2 separate regions of the Homo sapiens genome follow, and region 1 is linked to region 2. The links come from fine-mapping of genetic effects on gene expression. Tissue or cell type: blood mononuclear cells. Region 2 holds a variant in brackets; the other region holds the start of a gene. All regions are shown on one strand. Distances are from middle to middle.

Evidence for each region. PIP is the estimated chance that this variant, and not a neighbour inherited with it, causes the effect.
Region 1: COL15A1 starts here. The variant in region 2 is fine-mapped to the expression of COL15A1 in blood mononuclear cells (TOPMed, PIP above 0.99).

Annotation. Positions count from the first base shown.
Region 1 is chr9:98,940,608-98,948,705 of GRCh38, reverse strand. It overlaps COL15A1 (collagen type XV alpha 1 chain), which reads right to left and starts at 4,799. Exons shown (of 42, transcript NM_001855.5): 1 at 4,634-4,799; 2 at 4,456-4,544. The coding sequence starts at 4,644. COL15A1-AS1 (COL15A1 antisense RNA 1) reads left to right here and starts at 4,054. Exons shown (of 1, transcript NR_198999.1): 1 at 4,054-7,821.
Region 2 is chr9:99,055,507-99,063,611 of GRCh38, reverse strand. It overlaps COL15A1 (collagen type XV alpha 1 chain), which reads right to left. Exons shown (of 42, transcript NM_001855.5): 35 at 7,208-7,352; 36 at 3,659-3,723; 37 at 1,513-1,641; 38 at 1,308-1,367; 39 at 503-562. Among named protein-coding and RNA genes, the nearest start is that of TGFBR1, 46 kb to the left of the region's middle. The variant G/A (reference allele first, on the strand shown) is at 3,674.

The DNA of each region.
Region 1 (8,098 bases), 110 kb after region 2:
AAGGAAGGATTGGTGTTGTCCTCCAGCTCAACCCTGACCATTGGAGGTACAAGAGGCCATGTGGGTGACACCCACTGACAAGTGTCTCTTTTTTTTTTTTTTTTTTTTTGAGACAGAGTCTCCCTCTGTTGCCAGGCTGGAGTGCAGTGGCGCGATCTTGGCTCACTGCAACCTCCGCCTCCCAGGTTCAAGCTATTCTCCTGCCTCAGCCTCCCAAGTAGCTGGGACTACAGGCGCCCGCCACCATGCCTGGCTAATTTTTTGTATTTTTAGTAGAGACAGGGTTTCACCGTGTTAGCTAGGATGGTCTCAATCTCCTGACCTAATGATCTGCCCGCCCCAGCCTCCCAAAGTGCTGGGATTACAGGTGTGAGCCACCGCGCCCGGCCGACAAGTGTGTCTTTAAACAGGATGGTGTAGAAGGATGGGATTGGCTGCACACAGGACATTCTGCATGGTAGATGAGAAGACTTCAGGAAAAATGGCATTACAGTTGTCTGTGGCCCTTTCTTTCTTCCTGTGAACTATGACCCCTTTGGGGCAGCTCTGTGCCCAAATCCTTTCTGTACCCAGCCAGCATGAGGGCCAGCACAGAATGGGTTTGTTGAACTAAACTATGTGAAATAATCAAACCTCAAACTAGAAAAATATTATTTTGTTTTGTTTCCCAACATTTTAAATTAGGACTACAGAGATGAGTGACTCTTGCCTCTCCACTTCGTAGATGGGAAAACAGGCTCAGAGTGGGAAAAGCAACTCATCTAAGTTCATGGAGGAAGTCAGTGAGTGGAACCCAGGTTTTCCAATACCTGAACTTGTGCTGTTTTAGGGCGTGCAGGATATCAGGAAGTTTACAAAGACCCACTTTTTAACAGATCAACTACCTGCAAAAAACCCATATGCATGTGTTCTACCCCTACCTGAGGAGCCCTGTCCTGGGCCCACAATGGCATTCAGGGATAGTAGGGAGAGTCGATCCAGAGACCTGGAGGTGCAGGCAGAACTCTGGACCCATTTTCTGAGAGAATCAATGCCCTAAGAGGCCAGCAGCTTTTAAGTTGTGAGCTGTGTGCCAGCTCTGTACCAGGCTGGCTAGGAACCCCACCTTGAAGCCCCACCAGATCTGGGGCCTAGATGCTCTGGGAAAATACATTCTTTTATTTAAGAAGCAGCTTTATTGAGGCATAGCTTACATTCCATAAAATTCACCCATTTTAAATGTATAGTTAGATTATTTTAGTAAATTTATAGAGTTGCACAACTACCACCACAATCCAGTTTTAGAACACTCCCCAAAAAGTTTCCTCATGCCCCTTTGCAGTCAATCTCTGCTTCTGTTTTCTGTCTCTGTGGTTCTGCCTTTACAGAAATCTCATATATAGGGACTCTTACAATGTATTGCTTTTTAATGTCTGGCTTCTTTTACTTAGCTTAATGGTATTAAGGTTTATCCATGTTGTTGTAGCATTGATCAATACTTCATTCCTTTTTATTGCTGAGTAGTATTCCATTAAATGGATACACCTCATTTGTTTATCTATTCACCAGCTAATGGTGAATTTAACTTTATTTCCAGTTTTGGTCATTATAAATAATGCTGCTATGAACATACATATGAGTTTTTGGGTGGCCATATGCTTTCCTTTCCCTTAAGTAGATACTTAGGAGTGGAAGTTCTAGATTGTAGGGTAAGTATATATTTAACATTTTAAGAAACTGCCAAATCGTTGGGAACATGTATTTCCGCTCATAACAGCCCACTTACAAACATGCTTTCAGAAGCCACCCCACTTAAGCATACAGCATAGTGGTTACAAGTACAGATTCTGGAGTCAGACCCTCTGGGCTCAAATTGTGCTTATATTACTGAAGGCTACATGCCCTTGGGCAAAAGACTGTGCCTCAGTTTCCTCATCTGTAAAAGGGGATAAGACATGGGGTTGTTGTGATGATTGACTGAGCTCATTCATGGCAGGGCACTTAAAACACTGCTGGTTCATAGTGCTATGAAGTCTTGGCAATTGTTTTTTATAGCCAGTTGGGCAGTGGTCCTATGGAAGGAACAGCACCAGCCCAGAAGTTCACAGACGTGAGAGGGCTATTATGGATCTACCCAGTTACAGTCATGCGGCCTTGAGGAAGTCACATCCCCTCTGTAAGACAGAGCCCAATTTACTTCTCAGCACTGCTGGGTGGTGATTCCAGGGACGTGGTGAAGGTGACATTGTGCTTTGAAGACTGCACAATGCCATGCAATGGACTCATGTTACAATTGTGACATTCAGATTGTGGGGCTCATTGGAGACCATGGAACCCCTAAAGCCTTCTCCATCCGTGAAGCTCTTCTAACTACACACTAGGATGGTTAAGAGCAAGGACTCTGGAGTCAGACTGTCTGGTTCAAATCCCACCCCAGCCACTTAGAAGTCTTGTGACTTTGGACCTCTGTTTCTTCATCTGAAAAACAGAGATAGTAACTGTTCTCAGTCCTCACCTCCTGGAGTGGTTGTAAGGATTGGATGAATGAAATATGAACATGTTCACACCTCCACCTGGATATACAAAGTGTTTTATAAGTATTAGGGATATTAAATTGCATTACAAATGCAGTTTGCAGGAGGATAGTTTACATTTTTAGGAATCGTTTCACATCCCCAAAGGGGCACTGAAAACCCATCAGTTGCAAATGGCCCTCCTTAGACCGTTCTCAGCTCCTGAAGGTTTGCTGGCCCTCCCTTTTTACATTATAAATGGGAATAGGGCTTCCTTTGTGTTAGAAACAACAGCCCTGACACTGAGGGATCCCAGAGACACACACAGGAGGAGAAAGAAACACCAAAGTTCCTATCCCCAGATCCATCTTCCTTTTGGGAAACTGGAAGTTGCAGCAAAGTTCACAAAAGACCATGGAACCCAAAGTTGGCCTCTGCCACTGAGTTGGCAGGGCCCTATATCATATGCAAAATTGCAACTTTCTGACATGAGCCATGGGGCTGAGAAGCTAAAACTATACTCCAGCTGCCCTTTGATCTGCAATAAATGCCAGGCTGGACACTCTGGCAGGAAAAGCTATCATCGGATTTGGGTCTTGTTGCCCAGGAGACAATGGGCTGTCTTGGGCTTCTTCAGGCAAACAAAGAGTTAACCAAGGCCACCTTCTCAATCCCGTTTCCTTTGGGCCGACTAGAGGTTGTTTCCTAGACTTTCTGTTCCCTTATTCAATTGAAGATGTGTACTAATCCCCCAAATTCAAAGGGGAGGGGGTCAGAAGCTATAGAAAGCATGGCTCTTCTGCAAAACTGCATGGAGAAAGAGCTGAGCAAGGGCAAGAGCCTACAGACCTGGATTCAAGTCCTGGCTTTTGGACTGGCCACTTTCTAAGCTTCTCTCAACCTCAATGTTATAAAAATACCTGCATTGCGATGGGATTAATAGAAGCCCAAACCTCAGCACCGTGCAATATACCCTTGTAAAAAACCACACATGACCACTCCCTGAATCTAAAATAAAAATAAAAATACTTGCATTGCTTTCCAACACATAGTTACTGCAAGAATCAAGCAGTAATTTCTATCACTTATTTTGTGCCTAGTATATACTGGAATCATGGGAAGCACATTATTTCTAATTTCTCTAATATTCACAACATTTCTAGGAAGGTAAAATGGTCTAATTAATCGCCTTTTTCAGATGGGGAAACTGAGGCACAGAGCGATGAAATCCATTGCCCAAGATCACTCAGCCAGCCACAGTTCAAACCCAGGCAGTCTGACCTTAACCGAGGCCCATTTTAACTTAGGTCTACTTTAACTTATATCTTACTATTCAGCCAACCGCCTGAGTTCTGCTGGAGAAACTGAGGCCCGGGGAACGGAAGGGATCAGATCTCTGGCTTCCAGGCCACAGCTCTTTCCACCACCGGTGGAGCCACTGCCCATGATAGACGTGACCGCTTAGGTAACTCAGAGCTGGGTTAAGCAACCGAGCAATTCAGTTCCGTTATTTCTTGAGCAGCAAAAGCCCCAGATGTCCCTCCCGGTGTTCATGCTTCGCACCTGTGTGCGGAGAGGCACCAGACCTGCCCTTACCAGAAGCCAGCCAGCACGCACAACCTAAGCTGCTGGCGCTGGGTGCGCTGAGGCTGTTGGCGCTGGCGCTGGCGCTGTTTCTGAAGTCCCTCTCTGCCTAAGATTGGAGGCTCCGCACCCAGCTCAGACATCTCGGGTGCCCAGACAACGCTCCAACCGCCCCAGCTGCCCAGGGATCCCATTCACAGCTATAACCCCTGCACTGCCAGGAGGTAGCCGCCCGCGGGACCGCCAGTGCGCACTGAGTGGCAAGACTCCCTTTTATGTCCAGGAATGAGGCACGCATCGCAGCCGCGTCCGCCGCCAAAACCGACTTCCCCCACGGGCGCGGAGGCAGCCGGTGCCACCCTCCGACCGGGTTGCTTACCTGTCGCACCGCGGGTCTGGGTGACAGCAGGGAGGGGCGTGGAGACCGAGAGCAGCATCAGCAGACACCAGCACTGCCCGTTGTTCCTCCTGCAAGATGTGCCCGAGGGAGAAAAGGTGAGGCGGGCAAGAGTATTGGAGGGGCCCGGGACGCGAGGAAGCAGAGAAGCGGGTCTTACCTTGGTGCCATCTCGCGGGTCTGCGGAGCCCCGGAAGGCGCGCGGCTAGTCGAGCAGAGCGTTGGAGCTTAGCGGAGGACGAAGGGTCGCTGAGCGCTGGCCGCCGCGCTCGCCCTTCCTGCAGGGAACAAAGGCGGCGCTCGGCAGCGGCGGCGGCGGGCAGAATCCCGGCTCCCGGCCCGCGCCCCGAGTCACCCGCGCTCTGAAACCCGACTCCGCCGCGCCCTGCGCTCCCCCGCGCGCTGCGCACTCACGCCCGGGGGATACCGGCCGCCCCGGCCGCCTCCCCACGCCCCTTTCCCCCTCGACGGACGTGCGCTCGCCTCTGCTGCCTCCACCCGCGGCTGCCTTATGTAACCTGCGAGGAAAGCCCCGCGCCCGCGTTCGTTGGGGCAAGCGGGATGGGCTCCCTCCCGCCCTTAAGTCTGTCCTGTCGGGGCTGACCCGCAAGAAAGCACTCTTTCACAGCCGCTGAGGGAATCCTCTCCACAGCCCAGGAAGGCTGGAATCAGTGATTTCCTTATATGATGGACAAGGAGACTGAGGCTCAGAGAGGTGGAGCGTATGTCCCAAAGTCCCAAGCTGCACTGAGCTCCTAGATGCTGTGACCCACCCTGCACGCCTGACACATGGACCGACTTGAATGCCCAGGAGTGGACCTGCCTGGGGGCCATAAGGGATACATACAACTAAATGCAGCAGAGATAATCCTAATAAAAGTTTTTAATGTACTGGATTCCAGGGCTTTCCTCCCTATGTATACCTTGCCTGCCCCCTTCATCAGAATGTAAGCTCCAGGAGGGCTTATCTGTGCTTTGTTCCCTGCCTAAAACAGCTCAGGTAGTAGGAGATGCCAATAAACGCTGGATGAATGAAGGAGCACAGTCTTGGGTGAGGCATCACACCAGGCCCTGTGATGAGATGTGGGGGTCATGAACCAGGCTCTGCCTCCGAAAGCCCTCAGTGGGAGTGAGGCGGTTCAGGGCAGACTAACCCATCTGTGCAGAGCTTATCGCAGGGCACTGGGTAAACCCTCAATGGTCGCTTTTTATTAAGATTACCACCCGGCACATAGTGTGAGATCTTGGAGTGAGAAGAGGCACCGCTGAAGTTGGCTGAGACCTGGACAGCTCTGAAGCCAGGTAAACACTAGAAACCTCTCTTCCTGAAGCACCAAGTAGCCACAGTGGGCCGTGGCTCTGTGGTCAGTTCCTGTGTTTGATTCAGTTCCACTCTAGAGGATGGGTCACCTCTTGCCAAGTGAGTTAGCCTTGCAGAGGAGATGGCATGGGAATGGATATAAGCAACTAATGCTTACTTGGTGTGGATTATGTCCCAAGCCCTCTGCTAAATGCTTTAGCTGTGTTATCTCATTTAATACCCACAACAGCCATGGAAAGGTGATACTGTCATGATCCCCATTTCATAGATAAGAAAGCTGAGGTTCAAAACATTCCAAGGCTAATGAATGGCAGATGCAACACCCATGCTCCTCCCCACTCAGCCATGCTGCCTGCCAGTAAGCAAGAAGATTAGACTCACTCTCCACCCTCAAGAGCAAAATCGCAGTGGAGACACAGAGCACTCGGATATGAAAGGGTTCATGCCAGCCTGGGCGGTGAGGGCTCAGAGGAGGGATGGTTGGCCTGGAGATCAGGAGTCTGGGTTCCAGTCCAATGCTGGCCCTGGCTGCAGGGTGAAGTTGGGCAAATCTTGCCCTTGGTCTGATTTTTTATTTCTCCACCTGGATAATGGACACAACTACCTTGAATTGAATGGTGGCTGTGAGTCCCTTGATGGGACCACCTACTGGTACACCACAGTGCTCTCTGTCCATTGGATTTTGGCTTCTATTATTAGAGGTTGTGGATATTCTCATCGGGGCTGCGGCCTGTGGAGGGGGACAACTGGCAAGACAGAGGGGGGACCCTAGATCAACCTCTTAAGGGATTGAGGCTCCAGTAGCCAAAGCAGCTCGAGAACCAGGTTGGCCTCATGTGGAGCTAACACATAAGGCGAACTGCATCCCGACAAAATTGTCCACTTGAGGCCTCTTTCCTAATCTGTTCACATTCCCTGTGAATGTAAATTCTCTCCCACTTGCAGCCACTCTGTGATGGGCCTAACCTTATTTTATTTTGATTCACTAACCATAGGGAATTTGCTTTCATAATTCTATATTTCTCTATTGTTTGTAAAGTACCACATTAACTAGGAATATAATTGACTTTCTTAGAACTATATTTCTATACTGCTTAGAAAAACCACATCAGTTATGGCTACATAGTAGATCTAGGGTTCTGTTTGACAGTTTTAAAACCAGAGATTGTGAACTGGCAGCCATAGGCTCAATTTTGTTTCATTTTTGATTTTGGTTTTTGTTTTTGTTTGAGATGGAGTGTCGCTCTGTCACCCAGGATGGAGTGCCGCTCTGTCACCCAGGATGGAGTGCAATGGTGGCTCACTGCAACTTCCGCCTCCCGGGTTCAAGTGATTCTCCTCTTCAGCCTTCCAAGTAGCTGGGACTATAGGCGCCCATCACCACACTCGGCTAATTTTTGTATTTTTAGTAGAGACGGGGTTTCACCATGTTGGCCAGGCTGGTCTCAAACTCCTGACCTCAAGTTGATCCACCCATCTCAGCCTTCTAAAGTGCTGGGATTAAAGGCATAAGCCACCATGCCCAGCCTTCAATTTTGCCCATAGATATGTTTTATCTGGTCTGCTGGGTGTCAACCTCCAAATTAAATTGGCTAGCAATATTTGATAATTAGAGAATTGCACAGTAAAATTGAGACTTCTGGATTCTTTTTGAAATTTTGGAAAACCTGGCGACATAAGGCCTGCATTCTCTGTGCCAACAATTGATTGGCATTGAATAGGGGCTGCTGCCTTCAGCTAAGGCAGTACTGTCCAGTTTGCCGTAGTTCCCACCACCCCATATTGTCCCCAAAACCAAAGCTAAGAATCAATTGCCCCTATCACAGTTGCACTCTGCCTTTGCATATAAGAAAAAATGGAATAGGTTGAATGCTCATGTTCCTGTTAAAAATGGGTAAACAGAAGATATATGGGGAGAAGAACATGTTTAAAGAAAGATGGGGAAAAACATATTTCTACTTGTTTAATATACAAATAAAGTGTGTACATTGAAAAAAATAAAAATGAAGGTGCCATTATGAAACAAACCTGGCCTCCTCAGTTACATATATAACATGAAGGGTGAAGACTTGATTGTGATCCAATTTATCAGTCCAAGATACATATGCATAAGGCAACAGATTCCTTTCTACTCTTGCAGGGAAGTCCTATGTGCACATTTCATATTTTGTTGGTTCTCTGTAACTGATGATACCCAATTCACTGGAATCTAAAAATGAAGTTTCCCAAAGCACACTTCTCATCTACAAATGACTGGAAATAGACTCGTGTTAAGGTTGTTGATTTTGCACCTATTTCTCCTGG
Region 2 (8,105 bases):
ACCCTTCTGTAGCTCCCCATTGCCCACAGAAAATGGTCAAACTTTTTGGCTTGGCTTGCAGACCCTTGAAACCTAGCACTTGCTTTGCTGACTTCCACAGACTAAATGTCTCCCTTTTCTGCCTTGAACTCTACTCTTTTGCCTGTAATTTAATACTAGCAATTACAGGAATGCACAGCCCTTCCCCTTACCTCCCTCTATTCCATCTTCCCTTTGCCTCTCTCCCACCTGGCTCACTCCCGAACTCAGCTGTCCTTTGGGTCTTAGTTTGGAGGTAACCTCCTCCAGGTAGACGTCTCTGCCCTCCCTTATACCCCCAGCACCCTGTGCTTGGTTCACCCAAACAACTTACCACACTGTATTGTAATTCTCTGTTTTTTGTTTGCCTCTCTCACTAGTCTATAAGTATCATGATGGTAGGAACTGTGTACTAAGCATGAGACCTAGCACTTAGCAGATATACACTCAGTATTTGAAGATTAAATGTATAAATTGTACTTACAGCAGGCTTCTCATAATTGGCACTTGAAATAGGGTTTGGTGGAGGCAGAAGCTGATGTGGCTGTTATGAAAAGGAGGAAAAGAAACAGTTCTGAATATGCATTCAATCTGTTCTTCAGAGTGTATTGAGGTGCAAGTGCAATGTTTCTTGAGAAGATGCTTTAAATAATTTGCCATTGTCTGTAACTGTGACTCTTAACTGTAAAGAGTTTCATGACCTGCTGAAGAAATCATCTTCAGAAAGGGAGAAAATGTTCTCAAGAGTTTTAAAAAGAGCACTGAATCAAGGAAGGGCATTCTTTTTGATAAACCCATGTTTAATCACCAACTCTTTCACTTAATAGAGAAAGCTACCTCTTCAGAGCCTCAGTTTCATAATCTGCAAAACGGGGATGATAGTACCCACCTCAAAGCATTGCTCTAGGGCTAGAAGATGGACAATGCCAGTTGCCCATGTTCTTATGAGGCAGATGGTGCCAAAAATTAAAGGAATCTTCTAGATTGCTTATACCAACCAATGATTCCACAGATGAACAAACTGAGGCCAAGATAGAGGAAGCCCTCTGCCCAAGAAGATTTGGCTACTACATGGGAACAGCAGGTCTCCAGCCTCTGGATCTAGTTATTCCTCCGCTCTACTGTGGGAACCTCCTGTTAGCACCCATTAATTTCTAGGATTTCACCAGATACTAAACCGTGCACAGCTGACTGTCCAGAGTTTGGAGAGCTTGGTGCTAGATACCAAGGAGGACTCAGGAAATGCTGATAAATGAATGCATGAGCAGTCCAACAGGGTAACTACTCACGTTGCTGGAAAGCGCAGGGGGTGGAGGGCTGTCGGCAGGAATGGGGATCAGTTCTCCCAGCTTTAAGAAAAACAGTACATTGAAATGAAAGATCAATTACAAACTTCTCCCATTTCAAAACAGAAAAAAATGGCATTTATGGGAGTAGATTATTATTTTTAGAGGGTATTTGAAGGCAGTGTGTTAAAGGAAGTTTAGAAATTACCTGTAATTTTTTCCAGCCATCTCTAACACGAATGAAAAACTCAGTGCTGTCCCTCAGGTAGATGAATGTTCCTTCTATAACCAAATGCGCTTTCTGCAGCATGTCATCCATGTTGCTGAATGCTGTGACCTGTCAGATCATTTAAATTCCAAACACTGCCATTATCATTAGAGGAATGGCACCATCTGATAACCTGGCCTCTCTGTAAAGTCAACTAGGAGCCGTCCCCAGATACTCAATAAAGAGGCTTGTTAATGTGCCAGATAGAGGTATATACCTTCATTAGTAACTAAAGGGCATTCTTCTTGATAAAACAAAAACATGTATACTTTGAAACACAAATCTAACTTATAATAAATGAATTAAAACAAAAATGACAATATTATGTGAGTATAAAGACATTTACAAATTGTCAATGGAGTTATCTTTGTTTTGGTTTGGGTATTAGCAAAAGCACTGGTAAGTTTTACCACTTCTATTTTTTTAAGCTACTTGGTGGCACTAACATGGTTAAATGGTGTTACTTCATGCTGGTCCTTGAAGAGTTTCAAATTTTTCATTTGGAATAAGAAAGGCAAGCAAGTGAGCAACTATACTTAAGGTCTTAAATCTTTTTTGTCTAGCTTGGTAGTTACATTAAATGCATGATAGAAAATGGAGGTCTGTAATTTCTCTGCCTAGAAAAGTGCCAAAGATTAGACAGCCATTTGGCATATCTAGAAGCACATACAGAAGCTACAAAAATCTATTGAATAGCATCAAATCTCAAAGAAATAACGGCCAAGAGAGTTTTTATTTTTCATTGTAACTGAGAAAGATTATAAAATATTAATTTTCACCTAGCCTTGAAGATAATGGCTTTGTGCATCAAAATGACTTAGATATCCCCAAGGGAACCAAATATCAGAATTCCATCATATGTAGGACAGTTCTTTCTTTTGGCAGCCAAATTTTGCAACTAACATCCAGCAAAGATCAAAGAGCATTTTTGGACTCCTGACATCCTTGTGAAGTATTTGTCCATTTTTCTGTGCATTACAGTAATCTTGGAGTGCTATGTCTTGTTCCAACGAACTGCAGGGTAACGAATGTGCCAGAGATGTTCTTTGGCAGAATGGAGAAGACTGAATTATCCAAGTAAATCTGACCAGCACAAGGACCTGTTGTAACATTGTTTATGCTCTTGGGCTTTTGTTGTTTTGTTTTTTCTTTTTTTTCTAGAGATGGGGTATTGCTTTTTCACCCAGGCTGGAGTGCAGTGGCACAGTCATGGTTCACTGGAGCCTCGACTTCCCAGGCTCAAGTGATCCTTAGCTTCTCAAGTAGCTGGGACTACAGATATGCACCACCACACCCAGTTAATTTTTACATTTTTCTGTAGAGGCAGGATCTCACTATGTTGCCCAGGCTAGTCTTGAACTCCTAGACTCAAGTGATTCTCCTGCTTCAGCCTCTCAAAGTGCTGGGATTACAGGAGTGAGCCACCGCACCCGAGCAGGTTTATGCTTTTTGAAATACTATTATTGGTGGCCAGGCGTGGTGGCTCGTGTCTGTACTCCCAGCACTTTGGGAGGCCAAGGTGGGAGAATCACCTTGGTGGCCCATGAGTTCAAGGCCAGCCTGGGCAATGTAACAAAAACCCTGTCTCTACAAAAAAAAAAAAAAAAAAATTAGCCAGGTGTGGTAGTGTGCATCTGTAGTCCCAGCTACTCTGGAGGCTGAGATGAGAGGATTACCTGAGCTCAGGGAGGTTGAGGCTGCAGTGAGCCGTGATCTCACCACTGTACTCCAGTTTGGGTGACAGAGTGAGACCCCGTCCACCCCTCATCCAGCAAAAAAAAAATATATATATATATATATATATAAAAATATATAAGTAATATGATTGGTTCTTGTTATAACTTAGTCAATTAAGGATTCGAATGGTGGAACTTACATATACATGATTTTGTTTTTTCACGTCTTTTTACTTAATAAGTCATCCAAATAGATAACAAATCCCTTCTACTATTTATGGAATTGCACCAAGCCTACTATCATGAAGGCCTGATCCCCAAGGGATGTCAGACACAGGAGATCGTAGGCAGAGTTTTAAGTATATCTATCCCAAATGGAATGATGACTACACACTGATGATAATACTGACCAGGTTTCTGGATCC[G/A]GGAAGCCCTGGCTGTCCTGGAGGGCCAGGGGGACCTGGAAGGGCCACAGCTAAGACAAAACAGAAAAGAGAAGTTACACAAAAACCACACTCTGAAAAATGTCTGAGGTATCAGCTGACTCCCGGAGAGAAGTGTGTTCAACCCCATTCACAGCGCCACAAAGCATCCCAACTTCCACCTGTATCTTGGGTGCTGTGCCCCCAGCGTGTGACTTAGGCCACATTGACTGGTTCAGGGAAGAGCTGGGATTCTTGATTGTTACCCTGGATGAAGCCATGGCTAGTGCTTTTCCGTTTCATAAGTGAATCAATTCCTTTTGTGGTTGTTTTATAAAAGCCAGCTTAAGTTGAATATTTTGTCACTTGCATTCAAAAATGTCCTGACTCATATAACTTATTTCACCCAAGAGACAAGCATGTGACACTGAACAGAGGAAGCAGGCTCAGAAAGAGGAAGAGAAGGCTCTAGGGAGTGGGAGGAGACCAGGGTGGTGCAGTGACAGTAGCCCTGGCCTTGGGGCCAGAGACATGGACTCAAGTCCTTAAGTTTGTCCATTCCTAGCTGTGTGATCTCGAGGAAACAGCAAGCTCTCCAAAGCTGTTTCCTCATCTGCAAAATGTAAAATAGGCATTTCTTCTTCCCTGGGCTGCGGTGAGAACTGAGTGCTTTGAAAATTGTACATGTACAGCATTCATCCGGCCAGGAGCTCTTAGCTTTTGAAGAGTCACAGTGCCCTTAAAAATCAGATCAAGGTTAGTGCCCTCTTTCCCAGAGAAATGCACACATAATTCTATAAAAAAATATTACTGGGATGACAAATCCTGGAGGTATATCCTTGAACTCTCTAGGAGTCTATGATTCCTCAACTGAAAAGCCCTTACTTTAGGCAAACATAAAGTAGTATAATTACAACTATTCCTTTGGCTGTTCTTCTACCTCTCTCATCCTCTGCTCACCCTACCCCCGACAACTCCTCCAAATCTGCCAAGCTCTTGGCAGAATTAAGGGTGTTTTTACAAGCCCCAGTAAAATTATACAGTCCTTCAGGTCGTTGCAAGCAAATGTTCAGTTCCAACATAGGACTTGAACACCCACACACAGGTGGCAAATGTCTAGTGGATAGAGGGCCAGTGGACTCGGATTTGGATCCCAGCCATGCCTCCTAATAGAATTTGTGACCTCAAGTAAGTCTCTTCACCTCTGTGAGCTTCAGTGTCTTCATCCGTGAGATGAATTTTATAATAATATCTGTTTTATCTTCCTCCCAGGGTTGCTGTGAAGACTACATGGGATAATGGCCATGAAAGTGTTTTGTAAACTGAATTGCTATACATTATGTGAGAAGCAATCCTTGCTCAATGCAGCAAGGCATCCCGGCAGCCCTAATGTAGTGTTGCTGTGGACAACAGTTTTTCTCCACCTTGCACTCACCCTGTAATATGCCTCCACCTCCTGTAGTCCTACTCCTCCCTCATGGCTGTGTGGGCACCTGTGGTTCCATACACTCGGCACCTTCTTCCTTTGTAGGACCAGTGTCCTCATCTCCTTCTCTTGGGACCTTCCCTTCACCTCTACAACCATTTGGTTCCAGAAAGAGCTACCATGTTCTCATGTGATCCGACCTCCTGGTCATAGGTGATTTGTCCAAGATTGGGTACCTCACCCAAGTCAGGCCCATCAGGACCCTTCTCTAGGACTTCCCCATCCCAGGACTTTTCAAACTAAAATAGTAAAAGAAGTTCAAGATTTCTAGCTGACAGTGGAAGCTGTAAGTTGTCAGTAACCATATTTCCCGCTGTGCAGAGGATGTGGTTTGTGGTGAGGAAGCGTGAAACTGCATGCAGAGAGAAGCCGAGACAAGAGATGGCCAGAGAATCCTTGCAGGGGTTGAGTCCCTGGCTCTGGCTGTTCCTGAGGTCCAGCTGTTTATCTACCTCTCCCACAAGTTGACTGTTCACTCCCTCCTTCACACCCAGTACATTTCCCCTTTGCTTGAGCTACTTTGAGTTACGTTTCTATCACTTGCAGCCAAAAGATCCAAGGCTAAGTCAAAGCCCCAGCCCCAAAGTCACCTCCTGTGTAAAGCTCTCCTTATGCCAAGGACTCTGTAGGTCTCTTTCCAGGTATGCTTCCACCATACCTGGCTCCTGCCAAGCCAAACAACAAAAAAGTATGCCTTCATGCTATTATTGCTGCTATTATTGTCTCCTCCAATGGACATAGTAGAAATAACACAGGCTTTGGAGCTACACTGCTCTGGGTCTGAATCCTGTTGGTGTCACTTATTAGCTGTGTGACCTTGGAAAGGTTCCTAAATGTCTCTGGGCCTCACTTTCCTTACCTGTACAATGGGGATGTTAATGCTTTTTTTAAAGTGTTGTTGTGAGGTTTCAATAAAATACCATAGCAAAGTGATTAGCAAAATGCCTGGCATCTGATACATGCTCATTACATAGAGATTTTCTTTAATTTTGCCAGTTTTGCATATGAGGAGGTGAGGCTCTAAAGGATGAATAGATTTTTATATACAGAGTTCCAGTCACTGCTGGTCATTAAGACAGGTTCTCACGCCCCTAAGGCATTGACAAAGCAGCCAGGAAGTTTCCACTCACATGTGAAAAGATGCTCAACATCATTAGTCATTAGGGAAATGCAAACCAAAACCACAGTGAGATATCACTTCATACCAAGTAGGATGGCTATAATCAAAAAGATACAATGAGGATACCATAATATGGGAGGAGAAATTGGAACCCCCTCATACACTGCCACTGCTGATGGGAATGAGAAATGTTGTGACTCCTTCGGAAAACAGTCTGGCAGTTCCTCAAAAAGTTAAACATAGAGTTACCATATGACCCAGCAATTTCTCCTACGTATATACTGAAGAGAACGGAAAACATGTTCACATAAAAACTTGTACACGAAAGTTCATAGTAGCATTATTCATAATAGCCAAAAAGTAGAAACAACCCAAATGTCCATGAACAGATTAATGAATAAACAAAATGTATATCCTATACAATGCAATATTATTTGGCCACAGTAAGGAATGAACTCCGTGCTGCAACATGGGTGAACCTTGAAAACACTGTGTTAAGTGAAAGAAGCCAGACTCAAAGGGCCATATATTATATGATTCCATTTATATGAAATGTCCAGAATAGGCAAATCTGGAGACAGAAGTAGATTCATGGTTGCCCAGATCTGGTGGAGGAGAGGGAAAGAGAGAAAAGAGAACAACTGCTAATTGGTATGAAATTTCTTTTTGGTGTGATGAAAATGGTCTAGAATTAGACAGTGGTGATGACTGCATAACTTCATGAATATATTAAAAACTACTGGATTAGACACTTTAGGTGGGTGAATTTTATGATGTGCAAATTGTATCTCAATTAAAAAAAAAAGAAAGAAGGCGGTATCCAGGAAAGCCCTCTGTTAGGCAGTGCAGCTGTGACAAGCCACCCAGATGCTGTGACCTTGAACACAATGGTAGGGACAGCATGAACAAGGGCACTGTTTACGGCACTAACCTGCTCCCAGGATAGCTGGAGGTCCTGGTGGCCCCGGGGGCCCCGGTGGCCCAGGATCACCAGGTCTTCCAAAGCCAGGTGGCCCAGGCAGACCAGGAGCACCTGGGGGTCCTTGGGGCCCAACGACTGTCTCCCCTTTTTGGCCCTGTCAAGGCAAGCACACAATAACAGAGAGAAAGCATCATTCATCACTCGAAGTCCCATCTAGTCCTTTTATGAGAATATTTAAAAGAAATCAATAAACACCAGCTATTGTTATTACTATCCTCAATCTTGGGCACAATTCAAGGTGGGGTAAGGCCTCCAAGATGGCAGCCCAGTCATTATGTTGAATGATTCTACAGAGAACCCCAGAGACTCCTGGAGGCAGAAGGGACCTTGGAGATCATCTAGTCTAGCCTTTGCATTTCACAGATGGAGACACTGAAGCCCAGAGAAGTGAAAGGACTTGCCCAAGATCATGAAGCAAATTAGATGCAGAGCTAGAGGCAGAACTCTGATCTCTGGCTTTGCTGGTTCTACCCTCACAGTGAGCTCTGGGACCAAAGGTCAATGATCTAGTCATATTCTTGTTGGGGGCACAGCTTGACTTTCTCTCCTTTCACCTGGAAAAATCTCTCATCCTAGGAAAACCACACCTATCTAGGAGCTCCTTTGATAAAATTTCAGAAGAATCAAACAGCTCCTCTAAAAATATCTCCTTACCTTCCATTCTGCTTCTGTTATCTGATGCATTCACCATTAATCATTCTTTGTGTGGAGTGAATTTTCCACCAATGTCATGAATAAGGCAGTGTGACTAATGGCCTGGAAGTTACCTACCTTCATGTGGCCTTGACCAGCTACCTTCTCTCCAGGGACCTCAGCCAACCTGCCCATCAATCAACAAGGATGGGGA